2 linked regions of the Homo sapiens genome follow. The protein of the gene in region 1 interacts with the protein of each later gene in a pairwise test. Each region holds a gene or a part of one and is shown in the gene's direction. Other genes may lie near its edges.

Region 1 (4,287 bases):
GATGTTACGGATGGGGGAAACTGAGCTTCCCCTAAAGGGGTCAGCGGGTACTAAGGACAGAGCTGAGCTGAAAATAAGTTCTTGGCTGGGCGCGGTGGCTCACGTCTGTAATCCCAGCACTTTGGGAAGCCAAGGCGGGTGGATCACCTGAGGTCAGGAGTTTGAGACCAGCCTGGCCAACGTGGTGAAACCCCAACTCTACTGAAAATACAAAAATTAGTCGGGCATGGTGGTGGGTGCCTGTAATCCCAGCTACTTGGGAGGTTGAGGCAGGAGAATCACTTGAACCCAGGAGGTGGAGGTTGCAGTGAGCCCAGGTTGTGCCAGTGTGGGCGACGGAGCGAGACTCAGTCTAAAAAAAAAAGAAAAAAGAGTTCTTGGCCAATTTGGAATCCTGGGCCCTCACCCTCAGATGGTCCAATGAGCCTTCCTGCACTTCACTCAGGCACACCCCGGCCCCACTTCACAGTTTGTATTTTATATATCTCCCACACTAATTATTCAATTTTTAAAATTTAATTTATAAAGAAACTCTATATCCCATTGTAAATGAAAAAAAGCAGTATCACTTGCCATAAATAGAGAGTAACAAAAATAAACACAACAAGCTGTACAATGGTATTAAAGCCTAGCTGGAGACTATTGTCTCCTCAAGCTCTGGGCTTCCTGCCTTCCCTTTCCGTTGATAAGGAAGCTTAGCAAATGTTAGAGAGACGTGAAAGACACAGTAGTACCAAACCAAGACTTGCTCCTGGGTGCAGTTCATAGAATTGAAAGGCCACTGCAAACCAGTCCTCTTCCGGGGTGACTTGATGACTTGATGGTGCTCAGTGCTGTGTTTGGGATGTGACTCAAATCCACTTATTTGTCAGCAGAGTCCCACACTCCTGGAAGCCCTGGCCCAGACGACCTGCTTTAGCTCCCGCAAGGTGTCTCAGATTGTCGTGTTGAGTAGGGAATGGAGGGGGTCACAGGTGCCCATGCCCAGGTGCAGCAGAGAGGGGGAGACCGGTCCCAGAGCAGCCCATCAGCCAGATGAGTCCCCCTGCGCCAGCCGTGGGCCTGTCGGGAATGCAGCTGACTGGGCCACTGCCACGTCAGGCACATTATCTGCAACAACTCCCACTTTGCAGATGAAGAAACTGAGGCACTACGAGTCAAGTCAGTTGCCTAGAGTCCCACAGTATAGCAACTGGCAAGGCCAGGCCCAGAGTCCAGGGCTCTCAGAGGCCCCAAGGGGGAGTCTAAGATAACACACAGGGCAGGAGGGGAGAGCAGTTTGTACTTCCTGCTGTGACCAGGTCAGAGTTTAGAGCATGAGAGGCCTGCAGGGGTGGGGTGCTGAGAGCAGGACGCATAGTGAGTTGTCTGGGACTTGGCTGCAGCTGGGTAAGATGCACTGCCTTCCTCCAGGACTCGGAGGGTTTGGGATGAAGGAGGGAGGGAGAAGGGGTGCCAGAGCCTCGACCTTGCTGAGTGCCCCGTTGGCCCCCTCCCTGCAGCAGTACTTCATCCTCCTCATCATCACGGACGGGGTCATCAGTGACATGGAGGAGACACGGCATGCCGTGGTGCAGGCTTCCAAGCTGCCCATGTCCATCATCATCGTGGGCGTGGGCAATGCGGACTTCGCTGCCATGGAGTTCCTGGATGGGGACAGCCGCATGCTGCGCTCCCACACGGGGGAGGAGGCAGCCCGCGATATTGTGCAGTTCGTTCCCTTTCGAGAGTTCCGCAACGTGAGTGTGGGCCTGGGCTGGGAGGGGGCGGTTACAGGATCCCAGCCACCATAGCTCATAATCAAGCTTGAGAGTCTTGGGGTTGTCTGGCCCAATCCTAGACTTCTCCACTCCATTGACTATGCTCTTCTGAGGGCCTGCCATGTGCCAGGCGCCGTGCCAGGCCTTGCCCCGGTGGTGGCCATTGTGATAGTGTGAGCACTTGCTTCCACAAACTGATGGAACATGGAGCCGTGGGCATCTAGCCTGAGGCTCTGGGGCAGGGCTTCCTGGAGGACCTGCCCTCTAGTGGGGTCTGATGAGAGGCTGGGGCTATCCATGTGGTGTAAAGTGCAGGAGGAGAGAGGGGTTTTCCTGATCATCACGCCCCAGCAAGCCCCCTCATTTTGTAGACGGAAAACAAGGCCTCCCAGTCATCTTAGGTTGACCTCCTCTCCCTAAAGCCCTCTGCCTGGGAGAATGGTGTCCCCAGCCTTGTTCCTGGAAGTGGCTCTGGCTTTATTTGCAGGTGATCCCAGATCTGCCCACAAGGAGGCCGGGGTTGGCCTCCTGATCACTGCCCTAGCAGCAGGGTCCATGAGGAGTCCCATAGGGGAGCAGTCTCTCCACTGTACCGCTGTACTGTAATGCCACCCCCATACTGCTGGCTGGGGGCTTAACCCAGCCTCAGCAAGAACTGCCCATGCTGGTTTGCACCCAGTGGCCCTCACCTCTCTTCCCAGCATCCTCTGGGGTTGCCTGCGATGGTTCTACTCCTTCCTCTGGAGCATTCGCTTCCTAAGGACAAACCCTGGGCATCGGTCACCCCTTCATGCACAGGTCGGTGACCGAGTACCTCCATGTGCCTGGCCTGTGGCTGGCTGTTCACTAGTGAACCATACTGTCAGGCCCATTTATTCCCGCCAAGAAGGTGCTCAGGAGATGTTTGCCGGACACATAGGTGCTTCCCGCAGACGGAGTCATCCTAACCCGTTACTCCCAAGCATCTCAAGTGCTCCAGGTAACACTTACACCTAACCTAAAGGAAGGCACTGCGATCAGGGGGAATTTCAGGCCTGGCCTGGGCTGAGATGAGGGATGCCACTTGCAGACAGCCCTGGCCCGCAGCCCTAATTTTGTCCTCAATGGACACCTGCTGTAGCAGCCCTCTGGGCATAGTGCCGCTCACAACTTCCGGTCATTAATCCTTATTCTCTCTCTTCCCCACCCCACCCTCCTCCACCCTGCAGGCAGCAAAAGAGACCTTGGCCAAAGCTGTGCTGGCGGAGCTGCCCCAACAAGTTGTGCAGTATTTCAAGCATAAAAACCTGCCCCCCACCAACTCGGAGCCCGCCTGAGCTCCAGTGCCCAGCAGCAGCATGTCAGCTGAGCCTCCTGCCCTCCCCCAGGAACATGCACGCTCACTCTGCTTCCTTGTGGGTGGCCTTTTTTTACCGATCCCCTTTTTTATTTTTTACAACCGGACCTCCACCCCCAACTTCCTCCAGCCCAGCTGGGCTTCCTTTGTTGGAGTCAACTGTTGATGCTTCCAGGCCAAACTGGCTTCCTCTCCTCCTCTCCCCACCTTTGCCATTCTTAAGTATTGAATGTACTTTGTATAATTTTAGTGGAATTGTTATTGAGAATAAAATTTTTACAATCATAACTGGCTTTTTCCAAGTAACTAGCTGCAGACTCTGATGAAAGAAACATGTCCTTGGTGCATACGTGTCGTAGCCTGCACCTAATTAATTCCTGCTGTTTTTTTAATACTGTGACTGTGTTCTATTTGTTATATGCTCAGGGTAACAAATGAGTTTCAGACGTCCCTGCGTCAGCTCCTTCCTCAGCAGGGACCTGACGGGCTCACTGATCTAAGAAAGGAAATGGAAAATGAAAATCCACCCCACAAGTCTAATAAGTTGGTGTAGTCACTTCTGCATGGGGACATGCATTCCAGATGATAACCTGTTAAATCACTGCCAGTTAACAGTGATAACCTGTTAAACTGGCACAGAACCTGGCACATTGTACAAACTCAATAAATATTCATGGATGAATAGAATGAATGTGCAGGCCCATACCAGTTTCTGACATATCCCTACCCCACAACTGGACAGCAGTCCCAGCCACCCATCTGCTCCTCCTTGGGTCTCCCGGGTGTTTGGGTTGGCCACCTAGAGGTCTGTGAAAGCCTCTCTGGCCTCAGGACCCAAAATGGGGCTGCTTCTGACCCTGCTGTTTCTTCCACATCCCCCTCTCTAGGCTCAGGCCCAGTTTTATGAAACCAGCCAGAGGACCCCTCTCTGAAAGTTCAGCCCCGCTCCCAGGTCCCTCCTTTATTCCACATAACACCTCTTTCTCCTTTATCCACCTGACTCCCGCTTGGACCTCCAGGTAAGCCCCCTGGACACGGGCTTCCGTGTAACCAGTAACAGCTAACCCTCCTATTAAGCACTTTGTTTCCAGCTCCGTGTTCAGTATTTTGCAGGCACTTTTTCTGAGACAGGGTCTCACTCTGTCCCACCCAGGCTGGAGTGCAGTGGTGTGATCTCGGCTCACTGCAGCC
Region 2 (4,024 bases), on another chromosome or scaffold:
AGGCAGAGGTTGCAGTGAGCCGAGATCGCACCACTGCCTTCCAGCCTGGGCGACAGAGTGAGACTCCATCTCAAAAATAAAATAAAATAAAATTAGGCAGGTGTAGTGGCATGCGCCTGTAGTCACAGCTGCTTGGGAGGCTGAGGTGAGAGGATTCCTTGAGTCCAGAAGTTGGAGGCTGCAGTGAGCCATGATCATATCACTGCACTCCAGCCTGGGTGACAAAGCAAGACCCTGTCTCAGGGAAAAAAAAAAAAAAAAGTATTGTCTAGTAACAACAAGATGCATCATAACATTACACTAGTCAGTATTATGTTGATGTTTTATCAATCATTATATTTGTTGATCCATGTTAGTTAATTTGGTGCTTTCTGGAAAATGTATTTAGGAATATAATGTTTTTTAATTAAACACCTTAAACCTAATACAAATGGTACTTTTACTGGGAGCATACACTTTTTAAATTGGAAGGGTGTAATTTGACTTTTCTTTTCTTTTTTTTTTTTTGAGACGGAGTCTTGCTCTTGTCTCCCAGGCTGGAGTACAGTGGCAAGATCTTGACTCACCACAACCTCCACCTCCCGGGTTCAAGCTATTCTCCTGCCTCAGCCTCCTGAGTAGCTGGGATTACAAGCACCCACCACCACGCCCGGGTAATTTTTGTATTTTTAGTTGAGACGGGGTTTCGCCATGTCGGCCAGGCTGGTCTTGAACTCCTGACCCAGGTGATCCGCCCACCTCGGCCTCCCAAAGTGCTGGGATTACAGGCGTGAGCCACCATGCCCGGCGTAATTTGACTTTTCTTTGCCAGGTTCAAATGCTGTGTTTACTATTTCTTGCTCATCTAAGTATTTTTTCACTACCAGCTTAATACCCCTTAACTTTGGAGACTTCTGCGTTATATTTACCATTCTTGTTCTTGGAGCATAATGAGGGTAGAAATGAGAGAAAAGGTATTTTGAAAGGACTCCCTTTTTTGCTTCCTGTAACTACCTCTCTCTCCTTCAGTTTTATATACTGTCTGAAATTCTTTTTGCCTTGAGCAAGTCACCCAGAAACCTACCACCTATGTATGAGTCATGAGATGCTCATTCTAGCATCTCCTCTGCCCACTAGCATACTCTTAAGATGCACAGCTTGGTGTTACAGTGGGAAAGGCACTATTACTGTAAGTCGCAACGCTAAGCCTGTTAGTAACTAAGGGTTTTTGGGCAAGTGATTTAATCTCATCTGAAATTATCTCCAAGGTCGAGAATCTATAAAATAGTTACTTATTGAGGGGTGTTCTTTGGTGAGGAGGGAGACCTGTGGGGAAGAGGCCTCTGGATAGTCTTTTACATCTTAGTGTGATTAATCATAGATTATTTCTCCTAAAGGCATTTTTAAAAGCTACTTATATGATAGGATTGAGGAAGAAATCTTAGGATGGAATTTAAAGGCCAGTAGAATATAAGCTTCAGTACAGCAGGGATTTTTGTTTGGTCCACTGATGTTTCCCTAGTGCGTAGAATAGTAATTAGTCTGTAACATGTACTTAATATTTGTTGAACGAGTGAAGAAATGAAGGAATGGGTTGCTGGGGAAAGATAAAATTTGTTGGAGTACTGCGCAGATGCTCTGAGTATCTTGAAGGAATTCAAAATGCAAACCAACCAGAGTACAACCCATCATTCCTACAATGTAAAAATACCTCCCAGCAGTAGCAAAGTGTCTATTGTTCACTTAATCGCCTTTCAGAACTATTAAGCGATTACTGCCCTGGCTGCCCCTCTTACTCACAGAGTAAGATTTTGACCATCACCACATACTTAAGTGCCAGCTTGACATTTCAGTATGCATTTTACTCTTACTTTCAAAAACCTATGTCCTAGCCATTCCCTGTGCTACACTTAATATAATCAATAACAGGACATTTACTGTTGTAGCAAAAATGAATTATATATATTGATTAAAATTTGGCCTTTCATCCATGGAGGATTCATGGCATAGCATTTAAAAACTGGCACTCTTCAGGCACAGTGGCTCATGCCTGTAATCCCAGCACTTTGGGAGGCCTACGTGGGCGGTTCACAAGGTCGAGAGATCGAGACCATCCTGGTCAACACAGTGAAACCCCGTCTTTACTAAAATACAAAAAATTAGTTGGGTGTGGTGGTGCACACCTGTAGCCCCAGCTACTCAGGAGGCTGAGGCAGGGGAGTCACTTGAACCCGGGAGGCGGAGGTTGCAGTGAGCCGATATTGCACCACTGCACTCCGGCCTGGCAACAGAGCGAGACTCCATCTTAAAGGAAAAAAAAAAAAAAAAAACTGTCCCTCTTTGCCTTCCTGTTCCACAACTGCCATATAAATAATCGTCAAGAATAGTTTTTTCACATATAATTCGTATACAAAGTTTCTCAGTAAGTCTATTTTGTCTACAAGATAAAGTCCAAATTCCTGACCTAGCATTCAGGGACTTCTGCATTTTAGCCAACTACCTTTTTATTCTTTTCCCTTACAGTGGCCTGTACTCAATAATTACTTAATTATTGAATAGTTGGTATAGAAAATAAGGAAACAAAAAGCAGTTATTCTTGCCTACAAAGTATGTTTCCAGTTGAAGAAAGTCTGGCAGATGGTTTTTCAAGAAGCCTGTATGGGTGGCATTCATTGTTTGAGTGAATTATCCATTTAGTGAAAAATAGCATTAGAGACAAGAATTCCTTAAAACTCCATGTAAACAGTTTTTTTGATCCTTGTTGACAGACCTGTTGGAAACTAGGTAATACAGTCTACCCTCAGCATCCATGGGTTCTCTGTATGGAAGCCATGAATACGGAAGGCTGACTAGGGGACATGAGTATCCACGAATTTTGGTATCTGAGGTGGTCCTGGAACCAGCCGTACTCAGATACTGAGGGACAACTGTAATAAGAAAAGAATTAAATATGTATATCTAGTGACATCAGTTTACATTGCAAGTAACCACTTAGTGGGACTGACTGAATCATTCTGTGCCCACAGCATTGCTTGAACAGTTCATCAGTCTGGATGGACTAGGTGATTTTGTAGTAACAAACAGCACCCAAATCTCAGTGGCTTATTTCAGAGGTTTATTTTTCCTCAGTTCATGTTACACATGAGCTGTCTGGGCCTGTGCTCCTAGTTTTCCTTGCTTAGCAATGTGGACAGGGGAGTCTTAACTTTCTGGCCTGTTGTTGGTTACCTGTTGATGGTTAGAGGTAAGGTAATGGGAGTGAATCACACACACTGGCTCTTTTTTTTTTTTTTTTTTAATTAAGTTCTGAGGTACGTGTGCAGAATGTGCTCTTTGTTACATAGGTATACACATACCATGGTGGTTTGCTGTACCCATTAACCCGTCATCTACATTAGGTGTTTCTCCTAATGCTATCCCTCCCCTAGCCCCCCACCCCCCAACAGGGCCCGGTGTGTGATGTTCCCCTCCCTGTATCCATGTGTTCTCATTGTTCAACTCCCACTTATGAGTGAGAACATGCAGTGTTTGGTTTTCTGTCCTTGAGTTAGTTGCAGTGAGCTGAGATCGTGCTACTGCACTCCAGCCTGGAGACAGAGCAAGACTCCATCTCAAAAAAAGAAAAAATAGATACCAGAATAAGTGTATCTATTCTAGGTACAATGAACATGGTTCCTGCTCTCATGGAGCTCACAGTCTAGTGAGAGGTCATGGGCAATAAGTGCATAAGCTAATTTCCAGATGGTGATAAATGTGGTGGGGGAAAAATACAGGGTACTGCTATAGAGAATGATTGTAAGTGAGGGTGGGGTTATTCTTGATTGGGTGGTGAGTGTGTGGGAGGAATATTTTAAGCAGAAAGAATGGCTCAGCCACAAAATGGAAATAAGTTTGAAATGTTGAAGGACAGAAGGCCAGTGTGGCTGAAGCATTTAGGAAGCTATTATATAGTCTAAAGGAGTTGGTGGTTTGGTCTAGAATGGTGGTAATGGAAATGGAAAGAAACGGACAGCTTGGGAATATATTATAAAGGCAAAGTCAACAA

What was found.
Region 2: the proteins of CPNE2 (region 1) and KATNBL1 interact in a two-hybrid assay, tested with the Homo sapiens proteins (one large-scale study listed by BioGRID and IntAct).

Annotation. Positions count from the first base shown.
Region 1 is NC_000016.10:57,144,583-57,148,869, forward strand, and holds the end of CPNE2 (copine-2), read left to right. Parts: intron 1-1,502; coding exon 1,503-1,739; intron 1,740-2,968; coding exon 2,969-3,076; 3' UTR 3,077-3,787; downstream 3,788-4,287.
Region 2 is NC_000015.10:34,203,275-34,207,298, reverse strand, and holds part of KATNBL1 (KATNB1-like protein 1), read left to right. Parts: intron 1-4,024.